Linked DNA regions of Homo sapiens: regions 1 and 2 are each linked to region 3. Evidence: fine-mapped QTL for protein levels in blood plasma. A gene starts in region 3. Each other region holds a variant in brackets. All regions are shown on one strand. Distances are from middle to middle.

Region 1 (8,190 bases), 350 kb before region 3:
AAAACTGCGCTTCCTGCACATGTACCCCAGAACTTAAAATTTAAATCAAGAAAAGGCAAAGGACATGAACAGATATTTTCTCAAAAGAAGACACTCAAGTATATGAAAAAACACTCATCCTTACTAATCATCAAATAAATAAATGCAAGCAAAAACCACAGTAAGATGCCATCTCACATCAGTCACAACAGCTATAATTAAAAAGTAAAAAAATTAGATGTTGGCCAGGCTGCAGAGTAAAGGGAATGCTTATACACTACTGTTGATGGAAATGTAAACTGGTTCAGGTACTGTGGAAAGTATTTTGGAGATTTCTCTAAGAACTTAAAACAGAGATACCCTTCGACCCAGCATTCCCATTACTGGGTATATATTCAAAGGAAAATAAATTATTCTACCAGAAAAATATATATGCACTCGTACGTTCATCAGCATGTTATTCACAATAGCACAGACATGGAATGAACCTAGGTGCCCATCAAAGGTGGATTGGATAAAGAAAATGTGGTACATATACACTATGGAATACTATGCCTCCATAAAAAAGAATGAAATTATGTCCTTTGCAGCAACATGGATGGAGCTAAGGACATAATCCTAAGCAAATTAGTGCTGGAAAAGAAAACCAGATACCACACATTCTCACTTATAAGTGGAACCTAAACACTGAGCACACAGGAACATTAACATGGGAACAAGACATGCTGCAGGCTATGGGGGTGGGGGAGAGAGGGGAGCATGGGCTGAATAACTACCTACTGGGTACTATGCTCACTACCAGGGTGCACTGTACAAAAGTAACAAATCTGCATATGCACTGTGTCTGGAAAAAACTGAAATTATAAAAACCAAGAGAATATGTTTCTAATGAATGTAGACTTTATTTGATGGACTGGACTAGAATATAATATTTTTTTAAGGGGAAAGGCATTGGGGGATGCACAATGTCTACAGGTTTCTAAACCTCTCTGGTTTCTCACCTAATTCATAGTCTCTTATGTCATTTTCATAGTTTTCATATTCTGCCTTTCCACCTCTTCTTTTTAACAAGTAAAATTCCTCATAGCATACAAAAAAACAATTTTATAAAAAACCCATATTATAGATCAGGGACCTGTGGATTATATGCTATTAGAACTATACAAAATGTCTCTATATAGTTTTCTGTATCTTTGGAATATCTTTGGGTGAAGCTGCAGACCTTCTTGGTGAGTGTTACAGCTCTGCGCAGAGCCAAACAGTGAGCAGCAGCAAGACTGCAAAGAGCAAAAGAACAAAGCCTCCACACTGTGGAAAGGGACCCTAGCACGTTGCTGTTGCTGGCTCTGGCAGCTGCTTTTATTCCCTTATCTCACCCCACCCACATCCTGATGATCGGTCCATTTCATAGAGAGCTGATGGGTTCATTTTACAGAGAGCTGCTTGGTCTGTTTACAATCCTTTAGCTAGACACAAAAGTTCTCCAAGTCCCCACCAGATTAGCTAGACACAGAGCACTGATTAGTGCGTTCACATACCTTGAGCTAGACACAGCATGCTGATTGGTGCATTTACAATCCTCCAGCTAGACGTAGTAAGTTCTCCAAGTACCCACCGGACTCAGGAGCCCAGCTGGCTTTGCCTAGTGCATCCCGGCCGCGGGCGGAGCTGCCCGCCAGTCTCTGGCGCGCTGCCGCACTCCTCAGCCGTTGGGCGGTTGACGGGACCGGGTGCCGCGTAGCAGGAGGTGGCGCCCGTCCCCTCGGGGTGGCGCGCGGGAGCCTGCGGTTGGGGGGCGGGGGGCGGGGGGCAGGGGACGGGGGCGGGGAGGAGGGTGAGGGCTCCAGCATGGCAGGCTGCAGGTCCCGAGCCCTGCCCCCTTGCCCCGCGGGGAGGTGGCTGAGGCCCAGCGAAAATTCGAGCGCGGCGCCGGCGGGCCATCACTGTTGGAGGACCCAGTGCACCCTCCGCAGCTGCTGGCCCGGGTGCTAAGCCTCTCACTGCCCAGGGCCGGCGGCGCCAGCCGACCGCTCAAGAGTGCGGGGCGCGCCGAGCCCGCGCCCACCCGGAAGTCGCGCCGAGCCCGCGCCCACCCGGAAGTCGCGCTGGACCGGCGAGCCCCGCAGGCAGCCCAGGTTCCGGCCCGCGCCTCTCCCTCCACACCTCCCCGCCAGCAGAGGGAGCCCGCTCAGGCCTCAGCCAGCACAGAGAGGGGCTCCCACGGTGCAGCTGCGGGCTGAAGGGCTCCTCAAGCGCGGCCAGAGTGGGCTGAGGCCGAGGAGGTGCCGAGAGCCAGCGAGGGATGCCAGCAAGCTGTCACCTCTCAGAAATACAGGAAGAACATCAATAATGTTCGAAGTTATAAAGTAGTAGGTTTCTATCAAGAGTAAAACATAAACGAAGTTATAAAGTAGTAGGTTTCTATCAAGAATAAAACATAAACGATCAAAGAATTCCTTATAAAAACATTTTTTATTTCTAGGAATCAAAACATAAATATAAAATTTGAGAGTCCACCAAAAAAAATTAGATGCCAGATTTCACTATAATTATCAGGGAAGCGCCCAAATGGGTTGTTTACGGCGCCTCGGGGAAACTTTCTGTTTCGTGTTAAGGGTCTTGAACCATGATGTTTAGAAAACCATGGGCTGATGCTTTCAGAACCTCTGTGATTTTTGCCTCCGACACTGCATCCAATAGACTAGCATGTTGATTAGGGAAAGCTAAATTCAATAAAAGACGACTGTAAGTGGGGTCACCACCTTGAGGGGTCATGTTAGAAAAGTAGATGATAAGGTGGTATTGATAGAGTATTGAAGTCTGGGCTCAAATGGTTGCCCGGGGCCTTTCAAGACCAATGACTGATAAGAATAGGTAATGTTCAGGACATAGAGTTTAGGATTGGGGGACACTGTGAGTTAAGGGCCATGACAGAAGTCTTCATAAGTAAACTGTTAATTGACACAAGCTGCTACCTGCCCAGGTGAGCAATCTGTTGGCCCAGAGGAGAGTTGCTTACTGACATAAATTGATTTGCAGAAATTTCCTGAAGCAAACAATAAGTTATTTATTGGTTTGCAGCCTTACTTTCCTGAAAAATAATTTTCTGGAATGAATTGTGAAATCATGTTGACACAGATGGCCTCAGGTTTCAGTTCGGATAATTAAGCTGTGTAAATATAGAAAGTCGAAGGTTTCTGGGTGCTGTTGATTCACAGTATGCAACAATGATCATATTACTTTTATTTACTATGAGCTTCAGCTGAAAATCCAAAAGAAACTTTAATTTCAGATATTTAATGAAATCATTATAGCTGTGGTAATTTCCTTTAGCTGGGTGTGAGTGTGTGATGTGAGCGTGTGAT[T/AT]GTGTGTGTGTGTGTGTGTGTGTGTGTGTGTGTACTCTGGCAGCATATTCCAAATAATTTCTGTAAAATTTCAGTTTGAAATTAATAGAAGACATATTAAATTGTTTAAACTCTTTGTTATTTAAATTCTATATTACTTTAGTCGATTACTCTGTATTATTACGGCAAAGCTTTGATATGTTGCCCTGAATTTAAAGAAAAGGCTGTTCGGCCTAAAAACAGGAATATTTTATTACCAAAAAGAATTAACTACCATATGTCATTTACAGAAAAGAGTAAATTCTTCAGGGCATAGAAAATACACATTTCCTTCTGTTTGTGTGGAAATAAGCAAAATACCTGTTATAATAGATTCCTCACAGAATTTTGTGAAGCTTCAGGTAAACTTGAAAGAGAAAAATTAAAATGCTAGAGTTTCATAATTACAAATTGGGATATAAAAATAGAATAATTATTTGAATTTTGTATTTCTCTCCAGGGGATCAAAAGTAATATATAAACTTTTAATAAATATTGATATAGCTTCACGTTGACTCCATATGTGAGCAATTTGCTTTCTGTTAAATTCACAATTGCATAATTTTTTTCAGGCTGGAATGCACTTGGATGCCAGAGATTTTGATTTCTTCATGTGAAATAAGGTGATAATACATTCCAAAGTATATATTTTTTCAACTTTGAATATATCTGGTGTATTTGGAGTAATATCTGAGTAAATACACTTATATGTAAGAGAATCAAAGGAACAAGATATTATTTTATATCCAAGGAAATTAACACTTAGAACATAAATACGTATTGCATTACTTCATATTAAAGAAATGTTTTACAAAAGAAAATAAAGGAGCTTATTTTATAGCCCCATTTCCACAAATAATAGCAAAGGTACATACACATATCTAATGTTTTACACACTCATTATTGTTTCTCTTAAAATTTGTTGCTTATACTATTTTAAAAGGCAAGCCTATAGATTGTTGTGTGTATATACATATACACACAACATACATATATGTGTGTGTGTGTGTGTGTGTGTGTATATATATATATATATATATATATATATATATATCAGCAAGCAAGAGAATGGGCCTCTTCCTGCTGAGGTTTAACATTTGCATGTATATGTATATTTTGATTCACATAGACTTATTGTTCTTTAATTACATGAACAGTGATTCCTGGTTACATTATTGGAAAATGGAAGCAATGCTCAAAGAGCATCACCTAAATTTCCATCATATTTTGCTCTCAATATATTTTGTACATCCAAATATATTGTGATTAATCTGCATACATTTTTGCTGTTCTAGGTGACGCTGGTATGAGGCTAGGTAATACACGACCTTAGTCTGCATGTTGTACTTGTGTAACACACATAATTTTACAGTGCTAACAGGTGCTATAATAACTAACTATAGTTAATGATGAATGAAAGAAGGAAGATGTTAAGATGTTAGGGAAGGACTCAAAAGATGCAGTGCTTGAGTTAGAATTTTAAGGGAGATTATGCAAAAGCAGTCACTTAAGGTGGGTCGGGATGATCTAGAATGTGGGAATGATGTATGCAAAGTCACACAGGAGAGATACAGCATGCATGTTTAGAAAATTGTTGATTACATATGGAAAGTTTGCAGGACTTGCATCCTAGAATGTCAGGATTTTAAGCTAAGTAGGGTTCAAATTAAATTTTTCACATACTTCGCTGCATTATAATAACTAGTTTATGTTTAACTCATCCACTAAACTAAGTTATTTGAAAAGAGATGCCAGTGTTCACTCAATCTAGTTGTCTGTCATTAATAATTTAAAAATAATTGAGATTTTAATTTTGGTCTGCTAAGCCTGTTTAATTAAAATTTGACGTTAAATAAGATTTTACAGGCCTCATTTTTTTTTCAGTCATCACAGTTTGAATATTAAACATTACTACTTTTATCTCCCTCAGTCAGCATAAAACATACTACTTATGGTTTTAATAACCAAATTCAATGAGCACCAACAAAATTTGATGTAACTATTAACTTTGAAATTTTGTTGAAATAGAACTATGCCTTGGGTATCATTCAAAGCATTTAATTGTTGCAATAAAAAACTTTGAGATAAATTGAAATGATGGACAATATGGGTCGAAAGCAACACTGGCTTGAGGGAATAGGCTAATGTTTGAGAACAGAATTGTTAAGGACAAGATTGGATGTTTATATTATTTTAGGAAAGATACACTCTAATGGAGTTTAATTCTAAAATGTTTAATATTATGAAAATATTATATGTTATATGATCATTATAGAAAATTAAAAATATAAGAACATCAGAAGCAAAATAGTCAAAGTCTACCTAAACCCAATTAGAAGTGAATACTATTAATCTTGATTTGCATGTTTCTAATCTTATTATTATCAAATTAATAAACAGCTTTCAGATATTCTGCTTCTCCCTGTTACTAGATCAGGATAATGTCATTTATGTACAGGCATCTCCTGCTTACTCAGTTCAGCATTGATCAATAAATATTTTAGACTTCCATTCAAAACACTTCCATTTTTCTTTTGCCCATATTCTTTTTATTCAGTGCTGCCTGTTTTCAAATACATAACACTTTGTCAAACAAATTCCAACATTAGATTGGATATAGTTGGTATCAAAGTAGTAATACACATTGCCATTCCTAATCCTCAGTGCATTGATCCTGAAAATTATTTGTAAGAATAGAAAAATACTGGATATTTCAAATTAAGTCTCATTTTGTTGCTTACCCATGAAAGACTGGAATTAACCAACATAACCATTACAAGGTGATTGAGCAAATGAATAGATGGAAAATATTATAGAAACTTTACTGCAGTTCATCAACCATTGTGGTCATTAGGCCGTAGGAAAATACAGTGTGACAGTACCCCTGTCTTCTTTTCCATTTGTTAAGTCTCATATCCAAGTAACAGTGGGTAGACCTTATGAGAACCCAAAGTGAGATAAAAATAATTTTTGGCTTTTCAATGTATCTTATTTGATCTAAGAGGTATTTCCCCGACTTTGATGCAATAATTCTTGTCACAAAATTTGACTTTACTGAAGACCGTTTTAAGGATCTTTGCAGCTGACAGCAGTGACTTTTTTACCTCCTACAAAGTTTCAACTGACAGTCTTATTGTCTCTGACTTTCCCAAATTAATGACATAATTAGTCACCAGGGCTTTGGCTGCTCAATAGGGATTTAGTAAGCAATGAGTCATATGTTGGGGAACACTTCAACAAACAAAATGTTGGCAGAGAAAGATGTATGAATCAGCTAGGAAGAAACACTATTCTATCACTGAGGATCTTTCTAATATTAGATATCACAGAAAAATTTTCATATAGATTACCATATGAGTGAGCCAAAACCTCTAGGAACAAAAAAGCTTAGTATAATTATAACTCCTTGCCATGATTTAACTTAAAATTTCTTTACTTATTTAGCAATTCTATAAACAAGAATCATTTCTGTTAAGGATACTAAGGAGAGTGTTCCTATTGAATCAGAACATTTAAAAGAAATAATTGAGGGAACTCACACATGTAAAACGTCATTAACCAAACTAAAATAAAATGTGAGGGCATAAACTTAACCAGAAATGTTTAAAACCTATATATAAAAAAAACTAGAAAACACTTCTGAATGGCACAAATTTGGACTTGAGCACGGGGAAAGAAATTCCATGCTCTTGAAAAAGCCTTAAAATCATAAATGTGCCAGTTCTTTAAATAAACTTATATCTTCTGTGTCATAACAAAACGACATTTTCTAGAATTTCTTTTTCCAGATTTAGAAAAATAGACAAATTTACTTGGAGGAATAAAGAAGCAAGAATAGCTAGAAATATCCTATAAAATCAATGGAATTTGGAGTCAATACAAAATATTAAGCAATTCTTAAAGCTTCTATGATTAAAATGAGTTATAACTACAGATAGATGAAGATCATATAGAAAATCAAGACATTGACAGATATGGAAAGGTGGTATATAATGAAAACATTTCAGATCAGTGAGGGGGAAATGTTAACCGGAAAAGAATATTAAAAAGGCAATGAACTCAATAAGACAACAAGAAGCAAACCACAGAAAAATAACTGGACTGGATTAGAAAGAAAATACTTTAGACACTTCAAAAATAAAATATTCAAATAACCAATGAACTTATTAAAAGGTTTTTATTTATATTGGTTACCTGAAAAAATAATTCAAACCACAATGAGATGTAAGTACTTGTCATTCAGAATCCTGAATTTGAAAGGAATATTTTAGAATTCTAAGTTGAAGAGAAAGTGCAAAGTATTGATGAGAATGTTGACTAATTAGAACACTCAAATTGATGTTATTGGCATAACTTAGTTCAAATAATTTGGATAAAGATATGTATTAGGCCCCAAAATTCTACTTGTAAAGATGGTTTCTCCAGAAATGCATGCATATATATAGCTAAAAAAAAATGTGTACTCATGAAAACACTTTTCAGAATAACACCAAAATAACCCCAAACTGTGGCCCAAAAGTGGACTAAAATACTTATAAAGAGTACAGTAAACAAATAAGTTGTAATATGATCACCTAATAAAATATTAGAGAAATAAATATAAATAGTTTCATTTGCAGGTCATATAGTCAATTCGTCTCACAAATATAATATTAAGCAAAAAAATGTGGTTCAAAACACTACACACACTATTTGATTCCTTACTGGTAAAAGTTAGAATAGTGTTATGTTAGGAGGGATGGGTGGAAATCAGGTGTGTGACTATTACATTTTCTTATTCTGGATGATCATAGTATTTTAAAACTCACTAAGCTTTAAACTTATGTGC
Region 2 (8,190 bases), 1.8 Mb before region 3:
AACCAATATAAATAAAAACCTTTTAATAAGTTCATTGGTTATTTGAATATTTTATTTTTGAAGTGTCTAAGATATTTTCTTTCTAATCCAGTCCAGTTATTTTTCTGTGGTTTGCTTCTTGTTGTCTTATTGAGTTCATTGCCTTTTTAATATTCTTTTCCGGTTAACATTTCCCCCTCATTGATCTGAAATGTTTTCATTATATACCACCTTTCCATATCTGTCAATGTCTTGATTTTCTATATGATCTTCATCTATCTGTAGTTATAACTCATTTTAATCATAGAAGCTTTAAGAATTGCTTAATATTTTGTATTGACTCCAAATTCCATTGATTTTATAGGATATTTCTAGCTATTCTTGCTTCTTTATTCCTCCAAGTAAATTTGTCTATTTTTCTAAATCTGGAAAAAGAAATTCTAGAAAATGTCGTTTTGTTATGACACAGAAGATATAAGTTTATTTAAAGAACTGGCACATTTATGATTTTAAGGCTTTTTCAAGAGCATGGAATTTCTTTCCCCGTGCTCAAGTCCAAATTTGTGCCATTCAGAAGTGTTTTCTAGTTTTTTTTATATATAGGTTTTAAACATTTCTGGTTAAGTTTATGCCCTCACATTTTATTTTAGTTTGGTTAATGACGTTTTACATGTGTGAGTTCCCTCAATTATTTGTTTTAAATGTTCTGATTCAATAGGAACACTCTCCTTAGTATCCTTAACAGAAATGATTCTTGTTTATAGAATTGCTAAATAAGTAAAGAAATTTTAAGTTAAATCATGGCAAGGAGTTATAATTATACTAAGCTTTTTTGTTCCTAGAGGTTTTGGCTCACTCGTATGGTAATCTATATGAAAATTTTTCTGTGATATCTAATATTAGAAAGATCCTCAGTGATAGAATAGTGTTTCTTCCTAGCTGATTCATACATCTTTCTCTGCCAACATTTTGTTTGTTGAAGTGTTCCCCAACATATGACTCATTGCTTACTAAATCCCTATTGAGCAGCCAAAGCCCTGGTGACTAATTATGTCATTAATTTGGGAAAGTCAGAGACAATAAGACTGTCAGTTGAAACTTTGTAGGAGGTAAAAAAGTCACTGCTGTCAGCTGCAAAGATCCTTAAAACGGTCTTCAGTAAAGTCAAATTTTGTGACAAGAATTATTGCATCAAAGTCGGGGAAATACCTCTTAGATCAAATAAGATACATTGAAAAGCCAAAAATTATTTTTATCTCACTTTGGGTTCTCATAAGGTCTACCCACTGTTACTTGGATATGAGACTTAACAAATGGAAAAGAAGACAGGGGTACTGTCACACTGTATTTTCCTATGGCCTAATGACCACAATGGTTGATGAACTGCAGTAAAGTTTCTATAATATTTTCCATCTATTCATTTGCTCAATCACCTTGTAATGGTTATGTTGGTTAATTCCAGTCTTTCATGGGTAAGCAACAAAATGAGACTTAATTTGAAATATCCAGTATTTTTCTATTCTTACAAATAATTTTCAGGATCAATGCACTGAGGATTAGGAATGGCAATGTGTATTACTACTTTGATACCAACTATATCCAATCTAATGTTGGAATTTGTTTGACAAAGTGTTGTGTATTTGAAAACAGGCAGCACTGAATAAAAAGAATATGGGCAAAAGAAAAATGGAAGTGTTTTGAATGGAAGTCTAAAATATTTATTGATCAATGCTGAACTGAGTAAGCAGGAGATGCCTGTACATAAATGACATTATCCTGATCTAGTAACAGGGAGAAGCAGAATATCTGAAAGCTGTTTATTAATTTGATAATAATAAGATTAGAAACATGCAAATCAAGATTAATAGTATTCACTTCTAATTGGGTTTAGGTAGACTTTGACTATTTTGCTTCTGATGTTCTTATATTTTTAATTTTCTATAATGATCATATAACATATAATATTTTCATAATATTAAACATTTTAGAATTAAACTCCATTAGAGTGTATCTTTCCTAAAATAATATAAACATCCAATCTTGTCCTTAACAATTCTGTTCTCAAACATTAGCCTATTCCCTCAAGCCAGTGTTGCTTTCGACCCATATTGTCCATCATTTCAATTTATCTCAAAGTTTTTTATTGCAACAATTAAATGCTTTGAATGATACCCAAGGCATAGTTCTATTTCAACAAAATTTCAAAGTTAATAGTTACATCAAATTTTGTTGGTGCTCATTGAATTTGGTTATTAAAACCATAAGTAGTATGTTTTATGCTGACTGAGGGAGATAAAAGTAGTAATGTTTAATATTCAAACTGTGATGACTGAAAAAAAAATGAGGCCTGTAAAATCTTATTTAACGTCAAATTTTAATTAAACAGGCTTAGCAGACCAAAATTAAAATCTCAATTATTTTTAAATTATTAATGACAGACAACTAGATTGAGTGAACACTGGCATCTCTTTTCAAATAACTTAGTTTAGTGGATGAGTTAAACATAAACTAGTTATTATAATGCAGCGAAGTATGTGAAAAATTTAATTTGAACCCTACTTAGCTTAAAATCCTGACATTCTAGGATGCAAGTCCTGCAAACTTTCCATATGTAATCAACAATTTTCTAAACATGCATGCTGTATCTCTCCTGTGTGACTTTGCATACATCATTCCCACATTCTAGATCATCCCGACCCACCTTAAGTGACTGCTTTTGCATAATCTCCCTTAAAATTCTAACTCAAGCACTGCATCTTTTGAGTCCTTCCCTAACATCTTAACATCTTCCTTCTTTCATTCATCATTAACTATAGTTAGTTATTATAGCACCTGTTAGCACTGTAAAATTATGTGTGTTACACAAGTACAACATGCAGACTAAGGTCGTGTATTACCTAGCCTCATACCAGCGTCACCTAGAACAGCAAAAATGTATGCAGATTAATCACAATATATTTGGATGTACAAAATATATTGAGAGCAAAATATGATGGAAATTTAGGTGATGCTCTTTGAGCATTGCTTCCATTTTCCAATAATGTAACCAGGAATCACTGTTCATGTAATTAAAGAACAATAAGTCTATGTGAATCAAAATATACATATACATGCAAATGTTAAACCTCAGCAGGAAGAGGCCCATTCTCTTGCTTGCTGATATATATATATATATATATATATATACACACACACACACACACACACACACACATATATGTATGTTGTGTGTATATGTATATACACACAACAATCTATAGGCTTGCCTTTTAAAATAGTATAAGCAACAAATTTTAAGAGAAACAATAATGAGTGTGTAAAACATTAGATATGTGTATGTACCTTTGCTATTATTTGTGGAAATGGGGCTATAAAATAAGCTCCTTTATTTTCTTTTGTAAAACATTTCTTTAATATGAAGTAATGCAATACGTATTTATGTTCTAAGTGTTAATTTCCTTGGATATAAAATAATATCTTGTTCCTTTGATTCTCTTACATATAAGTGTATTTACTCAGATATTACTCCAAATACACCAGATATATTCAAAGTTGAAAAAAAATATACTTTGGAATGTATTATCACCTTATTTCACATGAAGAAATCAAAATCTCTGGCATCCAAGTGCATTCCAGCCTGAAAAAAATTATGCAATTGTGAATTTAACAGAAAGCAAATTGCTCACATATGGAGTCAACGTGAAGCTATATCAATATTTATTAAAAGTTTATATATTACTTTTGATCCCCTGGAGAGAAATACAAAATTCAAATAATTATTCTATTTTTATATCCCAATTTGTAATTATGAAACTCTAGCATTTTAATTTTTCTCTTTCAAGTTTACCTGAAGCTTCACAAAATTCTGTGAGGAATCTATTATAACAGGTATTTTGCTTATTTCCACACAAACAGAAGGAAATGTGTATTTTCTATGCCCTGAAGAATTTACTCTTTTCTGTAAATGACATATGGTAGTTAATTCTTTTTGGTAATAAAATATTCCTGTTTTTAGGCCGAACAGCCTTTTC[T/AT]TTAAATTCAGGGCAACATATCAAAGCTTTGCCGTAATAATACAGAGTAATCGACTAAAGTAATATAGAATTTAAATAACAAAGAGTTTAAACAATTTAATATGTCTTCTATTAATTTCAAACTGAAATTTTACAGAAATTATTTGGAATATGCTGCCAGAGTACACACACACACACACACACACACACACACACACACACCACACGCTCACATCACACACTCACACCCAGCTAAAGGAAATTACCACAGCTATAATGATTTCATTAAATATCTGAAATTAAAGTTTCTTTTGGATTTTCAGCTGAAGCTCATAGTAAATAAAAGTAATATGATCATTGTTGCATACTGTGAATCAACAGCACCCAGAAACCTTCGACTTTCTATATTTACACAGCTTAATTATCCGAACTGAAACCTGAGGCCATCTGTGTCAACATGATTTCACAATTCATTTTTCAGGAAAGTAAGGCTGCAAACCAATAAATAACTTATTGTTTGCTTCAGGAAATTTCTGCAAATCAATTTATGTCAGTAAGCAACTCTCCTCTGGGCCAACAGATTGCTCACCTGGGCAGGTAGCAGCTTGTGTCAATTAACAGTTTACTTATGAAGACTTCTGTCATGGCCCTTAACTCACAGTGTCCCCCAATCCTAAACTCTATGTCCTGAACATTACCTATTCTTATCAGTCATTGGTCTTGAAAGGCCCCGGGCAACCATTTGAGCCCAGACTTCAATACTCTATCAATACCACCTTATCATCTACTTTTCTAACATGACCCCTCAAGGTGGTGACCCCACTTACAGTCGTCTTTTATTGAATTTAGCTTTCCCTAATCAACATGCTAGTCTATTGGATGCAGTGTCGGAGGCAAAAATCACAGAGGTTCTGAAAGCATCAGCCCATGGTTTTCTAAACATCATGGTTCAAGACCCTTAACACGAAACAGAAAGTTTCCCCGAGGCGCCGTAAACAACCCATTTGGGCGCTTCCCTGATAATTATAGTGAAATCTGGCATCTAATTTTTTTTGGTGGACTCTCAAATTTTATATTTATGTTTTGATTCCTAGAAATAAAAAATGTTTTTATAAGGAATTCTTTGATCGTTTATGTTTTATTCTTGATAGAAACCTACTACTTTATAACTTCGTTTATGTTTTACTCTTGATAGAAACCTACTACTTTATAACTTCGAACATTATTGATGTTCTTCCTGTATTTCTGAGAGGTGACAGCTTGCTGGCATCCCTCGCTGGCTCTCGGCGCCTCCTCGGCCTCAGCCCACTCTGGCCGCGCTTGAGGAGCCCTTCAGCCCGCAGCTGCACCGTGGGAGCCCCTCTCTGTGCTGGCTGAGGCCTGAGCGGGCTCCCTCTGCTGGCGGGGAGGTGTGGAGGGAGAGGCGCGGGCCGGAACCTGGGCTGCCTGCGGTGCTCGCAGGTCCAGCGCGACTTCCGGGTGGGCGCGGGCTCAGCGCGACTTCCGGGTGGGCGCGGGCTCGGCGCGCCCCGCACTCTTGAGCGGTCGGCTGGCGCCGCCGGCCCTGGGCAGTGAGAGGCTTAGCACCCGGGCCAGCAGCTGCGGAGGGTGCACTGGGTCCTCCAACAGTGATGGCCCGCCGGCGCCGCGCTCGAATTTTCGCTGGGCCTCAGCCACCTCCCCGCGGGGCAAGGGGGCAGGGCTCGGGACCTGCAGCCTGCCATGCTGGAGCCCTCACCCTCCTCCCCGCCCCCGTCCCCTGCCCCCCGCCCCCCGCCCCCCGCCCCCCAACCGCAGGCTCCCGCGCGCCACCCCGAGGGGACGGGCGCCACCTCCTGCTACGCGGCACCCGGTCCCGTCAACCGCCCAACGGCTGAGGAGTGCGGCAGCGCGCCAGAGACTGGCGGGCAGCTCCGCCCGCGGCCGGGATGCACTAGGCAAAGCCAGCTGGGCTCCTGAGTCCGGTGGGTACTTGGAGAACTTACTACGTCTAGCTGGAGGATTGTAAATGCACCAATCAGCATGCTGTGTCTAGCTCAAGGTATGTGAACGCACTAATCAGTGCTCTGTGTCTAGCTAATCTGGTGGGGACTTGGAGAACTTTTGTGTCTAGCTAAAGGATTGTAAACAGACCAAGCAGCTCTCTGTAAAATGAACCCATCAGCTCTCTATGAAATGGACCGATCATCAGGATGTGGGTGGGGTGAGATAAGGGAATAAAAGCAGCTGCCAGAGCCAGCAACAGCAACGTGCTAGGGTCCCTTTCCACAGTGTGGAGGCTTTGTTCTTTTGCTCTTTGCAGTCTTGCTGCTGCTCACTGTTTGGCTCTGCGCAGAGCTGTAACACTCACCAAGAAGGTCTGCAGCTTCACCCAAAGATATTCCAAAGATACAGAAAACTATATAGAGACATTTTGTATAGTTCTAATAGCATATAATCCACAGGTCCCTGATCTATAATATGGGTTTTTTATAAAATTGTTTTTTTGTATGCTATGAGGAATTTTACTTGTTAAAAAGAAGAGGTGGAAAGGCAGAATATGAAAACTATGAAAATGACATAAGAGACTATGAATTAGGTGAGAAACCAGAGAGGTTTAGAAACCTGTAGACATTGTGCATCCCCCAATGCCTTTCCCCTTAAAAAAATATTATATTCTAGTCCAGTCCATCAAATAAAGTCTACATTCATTAGAAACATATTCTCTTGGTTTTTATAATTTCAGTTTTTTCCAGACACAGTGCATATGCAGATTTGTTACTTTTGTACAGTGCACCCTGGTAGTGAGCATAGTACCCAGTAGGTAGTTATTCAGCCCATGCTCCCCTCTCTCCCCCACCCCCATAGCCTGCAGCATGTCTTGTTCCCATGTTAATGTTCCTGTGTGCTCAGTGTTTAGGTTCCACTTATAAGTGAGAATGTGTGGTATCTGGTTTTCTTTTCCAGCACTAATTTGCTTAGGATTATGTCCTTAGCTCCATCCATGTTGCTGCAAAGGACATAATTTCATTCTTTTTTATGGAGGCATAGTATTCCATAGTGTATATGTACCACATTTTCTTTATCCAATCCACCTTTGATGGGCACCTAGGTTCATTCCATGTCTGTGCTATTGTGAATAACATGCTGATGAACGTACGAGTGCATATATATTTTTCTGGTAGAATAATTTATTTTCCTTTGAATATATACCCAGTAATGGGAATGCTGGGTCGAAGGGTATCTCTGTTTTAAGTTCTTAGAGAAATCTCCAAAATACTTTCCACAGTACCTGAACCAGTTTACATTTCCATCAACAGTAGTGTATAAGCATTCCCTTTACTCTGCAGCCTGGCCAACATCTAATTTTTTTACTTTTTAATTATAGCTGTTGTGACTGATGTGAGATGGCATCTTACTGTGGTTTTTGCTTGCATTTATTTATTTGATGATTAGTAAGGATGAGTGTTTTTTCATATACTTGAGTGTCTTCTTTTGAGAAAATATCTGTTCATGTCCTTTGCCTTTTCTTGATTTAAATTTTAAGTTCTGGGGTACATGTGCAGGAAGCGCAGTTTTGTTACATAGATAAACGTGTGTGGTGGTGGTTTGCTGCACCTATCAACCCATCACCTAGGTATTAAGCCCAGCATGCATTAGCTATTTTTCCTGATGCTCTCCCTCTCCTCAACCCCCTACAGAAAATTATAGTGTGTGTTGTGTGTTGTTCCCCATTGTGTGTTGTTCCCCTCCCTGTGTCCATGTGTTCCCATTGTTCAGCTCCCACTTATAAGTGAGAAGATGCGGAGTTTGATTTTCTGCTCCTGTATTAGCTTTGCCCTTTTTAACTGGGGTTGTTTTATGCTTGTCATTTTTTCTTCCTTATGGATTTGTTATATTAGATCTTTATCAGATGCATAGTTTGCAAATATTTTCTCCCATTCTGTAAGTTGTCTGTTTACTCTGTGGATAGTTTCTATTGCTGTGCAGAAGCTTTTTAGTTTGATTGACTTTCACTTGTCAATTTCGTTTTTGTTGCAATTGTTTTTAGAAACTTAGCCAAAAATTATTTGCCAAGGCCAATGTCGAGAAAAATATTTCCTAGGTTTTGTTTTAGAGTTTTCATAATCTGAAGTCTTACATTTTAACCTTTAATCCATCTTGAATTAATTTGTGTGTATGGTGGAAGGTAAGCATCCAGTTTCACTCTTCTGCTTATGGC
Region 3 (8,182 bases):
TGTCAATAAGTGAAAAATAAACTTTATTGTATTTAAGAGAAGTCTGTTCCTTTTAGAGCACATGCAGTAACTGTCAATTTGCCTTTAAAAAGTTTAAGTTGTGGCCGGGCGCGGTGGCTCACGCCTGTAATCCCAGCACTTTGGGGGGCCGAGACGGGAGGATCACGAGGTCAGGAGATCGAGACCATCCCCGCTAACACAGTGAAACCCCGCCTCTATTAAAAATACAAAAAATTAGCTGGGCATGGTGGCAGGCGCCTGTAGTCCCAACTACTCGGGAGGCCGAGGCAGGAGAATGGTGTGAACCCGGGAGGCGGAGCTTGCAGTAAGCCAAGATCGTGCCACTGCACTCCAGCCTGGGAGACAGCGAGACTCTGTCTCAAAAAAAAAAAAAAAAGTTTAAGTTGTGCCTTATATTAAATGATTTAGACTACAGGCACATCATTAGTAAATTGTCTAAAAATTTGAAGTTAGGCAGATTTTGTAATAGACTCTGTGTCAGAAATTGTATTTTTAATAAATCTTCCAGGTGATTTTTAAACACATCACATATTTTGAGAATTGCTGTCTACAATAAAGGTGTCAATCCAAAAAGGACATTGATCTTGCAATTTCCTGTCTAGAAAGCCCAGATCTTTTACACAACAGACACCTGCTGTTCAGGTCTCAGCTCAGACGTCACCTTCTGGGAGATGCCCTCCCTGTCCCTCACTCCATCACACAAAACTTGTTTTTTTTTTCAGAGCAAACTCCCCTCTGCCCTCATACCTAAAATATAGGTATCATCTCCACCGCATCTGGAATGCCCATATCCCAGACATCAAATGTCTATTTTGACCATCATTTATATCCCTGGTCGCTGGAACTAGCCCTGGCACAAAGTGATTGTCAATGAGTACTCAATTAATAAAACCAACAGTCAATTATTAGAGTTGGGATTTCAATCCAGCAGTGAATGCCTTGAAGTTCTTCACACAACACTCAATAAACGTTATTTTTTCCAACTTCAGTTTGTCAAATGTAATTAAGTGCGTAGAGTCTAAGAGAAAGGGAGAAAAAGAAGACAGAACAGTCTGAGAATCACCTGTGAGCCTGTTAGAAAGGCAGAATCCCAGGCCCCACTCCTGACCTCCCAATCAGAATCTGTGTTTTAATAGGATCCCTAAGTGATTCATACCACAGCCAAGACTGGAATCACTGGGTTACGGAACAGCGGCAAGCCTAGGGGTTAAAACAAAAAGCCTAACATAAATCTGCATGGTCTGTTTACTCTCTTATTTCCATAAATAGTAATTTGATGAAAAAGATCCATTAATATTCCAATCAAATAAGCCTTAAAATGCAACTGAAGAAAACTTCCTTCTGGGAGGTTCCTAGGAAGATGAAAGATATTACATCAGATCATTTATGTGGTTAAAAGTAATATACTATTTTGAAAAGGTAGTAATTCCAACACTACCTTTAGAAGAAAACAAGAATTTTACCTTGATATCAAGCAAAATGCGGGAAATCTTGTATCAGGCTACAGTTACTAGTCAATGGTAGAAAAGTCCAGAAAAATTCCCCAAATCTGGTTCTGGAATATCAAGGACCGCTGCTTCTGATACTCCTTCCCATATTAGCTGAAGCAGTTTGCAAGCAAGCCCACCTGCAACGTTTCCCCCACGGCATTTGCCCACTTTTAAAATGGAGTTCTACTAAGGCCTGCCTTTTAGAGTTGTTGGGATAATTAAATGAGAAAATACAGAATGCTTTTACCACAGTGCCTCACGTGCAGGAGGCACTGCTGCCCACTATTTCCCGAAATGGCCTGGAAACTGCCAAAAGGTGGAGAATCATGTCTTACCGATCTCCCTATCCTCTGCTCCGTCACCTAACAAAGGAGGCCCCTAATAACTAAATAAATTGCAAAACGACCAAAAAAAAAGTGTTGCTTTGTTTGAGGAAATATCTCTGCCTCCCACACACACTTAAGATGTCTATTTTAAAGCACCACTAAGAAAATATTCATAAAGGCTGGGTGTGGTGGCTTACGCCTGTAATCCCAGCACTTTGGGAGGCCAAGGCGGGCGAATCACCTGAGGTCAGGAGTTCGAGACCAGCCTGACCAAATGGCAAAACCCTGTCTCTACTAAAAATACAAAAATTAGCTGTGCATACTAGTGGGTGCCTGTAATCCCAGCTATTCGGGAGGCTGAGCAGGAGAATCGCTTGAACCCGGGAGGCAGAGGTTGCAGTGAGCCCAGATGATGCCACTGCACTGGGGGACAGAGCCAGACTCCGTCTCGGAAAAACACACACACACACACACACAAGCACCTCATATGTACAGTGCAAAAGAACTACTGTTACTATTGTTACACTTGGGAACGCCTAGTTTTCTATCACACCAAGAATCACCAAAAAACACCATAAGTGCCTTCATGGGAAACGTTTCTCTTTTCCAGGTATCCCAATAATACACCTGTTGCCTAAGGGCCACACACTGACTGGCCTGGAAAGCCGCCGCCTCCTCCTCGAGCAGGGTAATTCCCCAAGCGGGCAGTGTGGCCAGCGAGCCCCGGGTCCGGCCTAAGGATGCCGCGGCTTTTCCCTCGGGCCCGGTGGCTTCCCGAGGAGCGCGAGGGGCTCGGCGCCGCTCCCAACCCCTAGGCGCAGAGGCCATCTTGGCCCTCGACCCCTGCTCCCCGCACGCTTCCTCCGACGCAGGCAACATGGCTGGCGCGCGGGGCCGGCCCAGTCCCGGAGGTCCCCAAACTCCGTGGCCCGGCTGGGCGCGGGTCCCGGCTTCCGTGCGCACCGAGGCGCTCCCAGGCAGCGCGCGCCCACGTTCGCCGGGCAGGCACCGCCCGGAGGCAGTTCCGCCCCCCTGGGGGCAGCCCTTTTGGTCACGGATGAGAATCCGAAGCGTGAGCAGCTTCCCTCGAAGTCCAGCCTCACTCGAAATTAACTCCCCGCCCCCCAGCTTAAATCGACGCGGGTTCACACAACTCGCAACAAGTGGATTCGAAGTAGCCAGTGTGGCCCACACCGTGACTCCTGGAATATTTCACAGATTGAATCCAGCCCCCGTCTCCCCGGGATATCCAAAGGGGTGGGGTGGGAGCGGAAGGAATGAAATTCCCCCCGGGATCTAAGCCGCCCGGGCCGCCGAACAGCCGCCTCGCTGCAGCCTCAGGCTTAGGACCCCCAAGGAGCTGGGCGCAGGATCCCTCTCCATGAAGGCCGCCCCCCCAAACTGCAGCCCCAGAGCGGATGCAGGATCGTCGCTGTTCAGGAATGTCGTGCCCCATAAAAGTGAAAAGTTGCCCGCGCCGCTGAGGCACTGCTAGCTTTCAGCGTTTCCGCGGAATAAAGCTTGATCGGCGGCTCCAAGCCACCCCTCGCCCCAGGAGGCAGCCTCCCAAGTTGGCCGGTGCTGCTCTCTCCGCAGACCCGCGCCTCTCTGGTTCCCACGAGTCCCAGCTCGGGGACGAAACTGCCACCGAAACCAGCGCGGAGCGTCCTCCCCCCGGCACCTCCCCTAACATAGTCGCCGCGGTCCCCCCACGGGGACCCTCGGGCTCCCGTGCGCCCCTGACGCCGCGCCCAACACTCACCCGCTCGCCGCAACTGGGCCCGACCCTCCGGGGGCCAACGGTGCCAGGGAGCGCGCTCACCTGGCGGGCGCACCTGACGCCGCACCGACCGCCAGCGCTCAGCCGGGGACTGGGCTGGGGACGTCTCCTCCCCCTTCTCCCTCTCCTTTCCCTCCTCCCTACAACCGGCCCTGCCCCCGGGCATGCGCACCAACGTGGAAGGGGGTGCGGGAAGCCTGCGGGCCAGCGCCGCGAGTCCCACCTGCTGCGTCCTAGACCGGCTCCTCGGCGCTCTGGACCTGGCTCTCGGTTCCTGCCGCCTCCGCCAGAGGAAGCAGGGAGGGAGAGGTGGACGCGGGAGTGTAGGTGTGGTGTGTCGGCCTCCTCCCTCGGTGACCAATTCACCTGAAACTCGGATGGGAGGGGGCGGGAGGACGCGGTCCTGCTTCCCACACCCTGCCAGCGCGCTGTTAAAGGAACCGCGCGACGTTGCGGCCCGAGAGGCGGGGCGCAGAGGAGAGGCGCGGGCTCCTAGGGGGCAGCACGGATGGGGGTCCCTGACCACCCCGGGGTGCGTTCGGTGCTCCGCCTGCTTCGGATGGAACCTTGGGGTGTCTGATGGAGAGAGGCCGAACGAGGTCCAGAGGGGACTGTTTCCTCCGGAAAGAGGGTCCAGGCACTCAGCACTTTGATAGGAAAGGCACGTCCTCACAGGACACTTTTCTGCTTCCAGAATTTGATTAAACTGTTGCTGGAAAAAGGCATCTAGATGTATTGCTCCAACGAAAGACTCCTGGGAAAATTTCAAAAGTCGTGTGTAAACATTGGCGCTGTTTCTGAATCTCTAGATTCAGAATAAGAGACAATTACTTAGAGGGGTTAAAATGAGGGTGAACTACTGTAGGTGTTAGTTGCCATCCAGCAGGCTAAAGTGCATAATACAGTTTACACATCACCACCCCAGGGTCCTCTCCTGCCCACCCGGTCCGCTCTTGAGGACCGGGAAATTTAAACTATTATGGCTCTTTGGCCTGAGAAAAAGCACCTTATACGTTGTTTACCAACCTGTAGTGCTTTAAGAACAACACTACTTAAAAAGCAAAATAAACTTGGTTTACTTTTTTTTTTTTTTTAAGAAAACGAAAAAGCACCTTAGTTCCGGGTGCTGTATTCTATTTCTTGATCTGGATTCTGTTTCCAAGGGAAATTTCATAGTCTGCACTTAACACTGTGTATATTTTTATGTATGTTGGTTGTTTTTCAACATATTTTTTAATTGTACTCCAGGATGTGGCAATTATAGTTCTTGGCATTTAACTATCTGCATTGAAAGCGAACTTTTAGGTTTCTTACATCCTGCTTGTCTTTGTGTTCCAATCTGGAATGTCAGCATTGCTAATAAATTTCTATCCAATCCCACCCACTTCTCTACCTTTAATTAAATGGTTAGAGATGTGACTCTCCCATACATTAGATCTTAAGGCACAATTCATACTTGAGGAAGTAAAAGCACTATATAAATATGAGGTATTTCAGATGATGGCAGCTTTAATGGGTAATTAATTTAATTGGTATTTTTTTCGTGGAAGTCATTGCTACAAATGCTTTAATATGACTATGTAGTTTTTGAATGATGCAGTTTAAATTGGTATTGTTAACACTGGGGAAGTCAGGTTAATCCCCTTAATGTTCCCTGTCAGATTACTGAAATCTCCAAACATTCCATTTGGTTTATAATTAAACAAGGGAACATTTCCTAATACTCTCAGATTTGTAAACACATGTCTATTATTTTATAATGTATTTTGACATGTTCTGAAGAGATCTTAGGAGTTTTTTTCCACTTTATAAAAGAGAGTTCACATACCATAAAATTCACCCTTTTAAAGGGCACGTACAATTCAGTGGGTTTTAGTATACTCACCAGATTGTACAACCATCACCACCATCTAATTCCATTTTAATCGCCCCCAAAAGAAACCCCATGCCCATTAATAGTCACTCCCCATTTCCCCTCTCCCCTCATCCCTCGGCAACCACTAATGTACTTTCTGTCTCTATTAATTTGCCTATTCTGGACATTTTATATGAATGGATAATACAATATGTGCCCTTTGTGTCTGTCTTCTTTCACTTAGCATAATATTTTAAAGGTTCATCCATGATGTAGTATGTATTGGTACTTCATTCCTTTTTATAACTGAATAATATTCCATTGTATCGATGTATCACATTTCGTTTAATCATTCATCTGTTGATGAACATTTGGGTTGTTTCTCCTTTGGGGATGTTATGAATAATGTTACTATGAACATTTGTGTACAAGTTTTTGTGTGGACATATGTTTTCGGTTCTCTTGGTAAATTAGGTTTTTAAATTAAACTTTTTATCATTTTAAGATAACTTATGCATATCATGTTATTTTTCTTATTCCCACCCTAAACCTAAACTCAAAGACATGTTGTGTTGGGTAGAAGGCTTTCATATTCTATTTGCTTTCCCAATTCATTCCTTCAACTATTTTCTGAGTGCCTAATCTGTACACACACGAGTGAACAAAACTCAAAAATCTCTGTGAAACTTACTTTCTAGTTAGTTCTGAGTTCATCCATATGGAATAATAGGATTCATTAATTGTATGAATTCTATTTTATTCGCTTGAGATTAATTTTCTAAACAACAACATCAAAAGAACGGTTAACTATTGTCCAATATTGTGTATATTTCATAGTTGAAAGTGTCTAGAAAGAAAATCCAGCCTTAAAACTTAAACACATCATTCTTCAATACCAAAACAAAATTTGTTGGATGTTAAATGATGCCATGCTCAATTTAATCATGTTACATAATCATAAATTATAGCAAAATTTAATTACTATATTTTTTACCAAATATTCCTTCTTGGCAACTCACAGTAGTATTGAGTAGTATCCACTATTGAATATTATTTGATGAAAATCCCCGTGACTCAGAGCAATGTAAATATTATTTTCAGAACCCCATGATTAGAAACTTGTTGACTTTACCTGCAGTCAAATGGATAAGATGAAAAGACAATTTGTTTCTCCTTTTCTATGTGTAAAAGAGAAACTTAAGAGCTCAGATTATGGTGTCAGAAATCTCAGTTCAAATTCCAGTGTTGCTACTTGGTAGCTGGGTAGGACTAAAGGAAATTAAACTATGTAAGGTTCATTTTTTTCCACCGTAAATTTGAGATGATAATAAACAATACTGTCTTTATAAGTCTGTTGGTGGGAATGTGGAGCATTCACCAAGACAGACTATATGCTGAGCCACGAAACAAGTCTCAATAAATTGAGCAAGCCATTGCTGTATCCTATATGCCTGAAATAGTTCCTGTCACATAGGAATTACATAACTATGTGTTGGATGAATGAATGAATGACTATAGCCCTGCTTCCCAAATCCAACATGCCTGTGGAGTCTTGTCCTCCTCTCAGATGGCCTCCTGCTATTGTGAAACCCGCACGTTCCTTAGTAGCATTTCAAGGCTTACATCTCTAGTACTAGGGTTTAGAGGAGAAAAGACGGGAGATTAACATAGTTCCACTGTTTCCACTCTGCCTTGCCTGCTTAGTAAATGAATTCAAAGACTGGTATGTGTCCAAGGCAACTCAGTTTGGAGTTGCTGAGGGCCTGGCCTGAAAGGCCTCTAGTTTCTCTGCCCAGTCATGAGGAGGGGGAGGCTTCTGGTCCACACAGGACAGTTTCCTTGGACAGGTGTATGGAAGAATTTATGGGGAAGCCACTAGGAAGACAATTTCTAAAAGGATGATTACACTAGATGAGTAAACCTTTATCTTCTCTATTCCTATGTGTTAAGCAAGATCCTCCTGGGAGGAATCCATATTTAAACAAAGAGACTCAGCACCTGAACAGGAACTTCAACAGGTGGAAGAATAATAATAGCACCATTTACTCAGGGAAAAACATGTTCTAAGTACTATGCTAAGTGTTTTTTTGGTTTTCTGTTTGTTTGTTTTGAAACAGAGTCTCCTCCGTAGCCCAGGCTGGAGTGCAATGGTGTGATCAGCTCTCTGCAACCTCCGCCTCCTGGGTTCAAATGATTCTCCTATGTCAGCCTCCTGAATAGTTGGGACTACAGGCACCTGCCACCACGCCTGGCTAATTTTTGTATTTTCAGTAGAGATGGGATTTCACCTTGTTGGTCAGGCTGGTCTCGAACTCCTGACCTCAGGTGATACTAACGCCTTGGCCTCTCAAAGCGCTAGGATTACAGAGGTGAGCCACCATGCCCGGCAGTTTTATGTTTTTTTTTATTTTTTTCTGGTTTTTGGGTTTTTTTTTTTTTTTTTTTTTTTTTTTGAGACGGAGTCTCGCTCCGTTGCCCAAGCTGGAGTGCAATGGCGCAATCTCAGCTCACTGCAACCTCTGCCTCCCAGGTTCAAGCGATTCTCCTGCCTCAGCCTCCTGAGTAGCTAGGATTACAGGTGCCCGCCACCACGCCCAGTTAATTTTTGCATTTTTAGTAGACACGGGGTTTCACTGTGTTGGTCAGGCTGGTCTCAAACTCCTGACCTCAAGCAATTCACCCGCCTCAGCCTCCAAAATGCTGGGATTAC

Alleles and levels. Positions count from the first base shown, and alleles are read on the strand shown. Strength reflects both the effect of a copy and how common the allele is.
With allele T in place of AT in region 1, the plasma level of the protein whose gene starts at base 3,710 in region 3 is higher (weak association).
As copies of T replace AT in region 2, the plasma level of the protein whose gene starts at base 3,710 in region 3 goes up (moderate association).

The links. PIP is the chance, under the fine-mapping model, that this variant and not a neighbour inherited with it causes the effect. Protein levels are from antibody-based Olink assays in UK Biobank. Linkage for the fine-mapping came from a reference panel and not from the study's own genotypes, which makes the PIPs less certain.
Region 1: its variant is fine-mapped to the plasma level of the OCLN protein (UK Biobank, PIP above 0.99).
Region 2: its variant is fine-mapped to the plasma level of the OCLN protein (UK Biobank, PIP above 0.99).

Annotation. Positions count from the first base shown.
Region 1 is chr5:69,838,241-69,846,430 of GRCh38, reverse strand. It overlaps LOC105379623 (a long non-coding RNA gene), which reads left to right and starts at 2,067. Exons shown (of 5, transcript XR_001742419.2): 1 at 2,067-2,348; 2 at 3,935-3,985. RefSeq lists an enhancer at 1,678-2,501. The variant T/AT (reference allele first, on the strand shown) is at 3,345.
Region 2 is chr5:71,287,435-71,295,624 of GRCh38, reverse strand. It overlaps LOC105379016 (a long non-coding RNA gene), which reads left to right and starts at 5,769. Exons shown (of 3, transcript XR_948416.3): 1 at 5,769-6,030. RefSeq lists enhancers at 5,084-5,909, 5,910-6,735. The variant T/AT (reference allele first, on the strand shown) is at 4,011.
Region 3 is chr5:69,488,318-69,496,499 of GRCh38, reverse strand. It overlaps OCLN (occludin), which reads right to left and starts at 3,710. Exons shown (of 9, transcript NM_001205254.2): 1 at 3,600-3,710.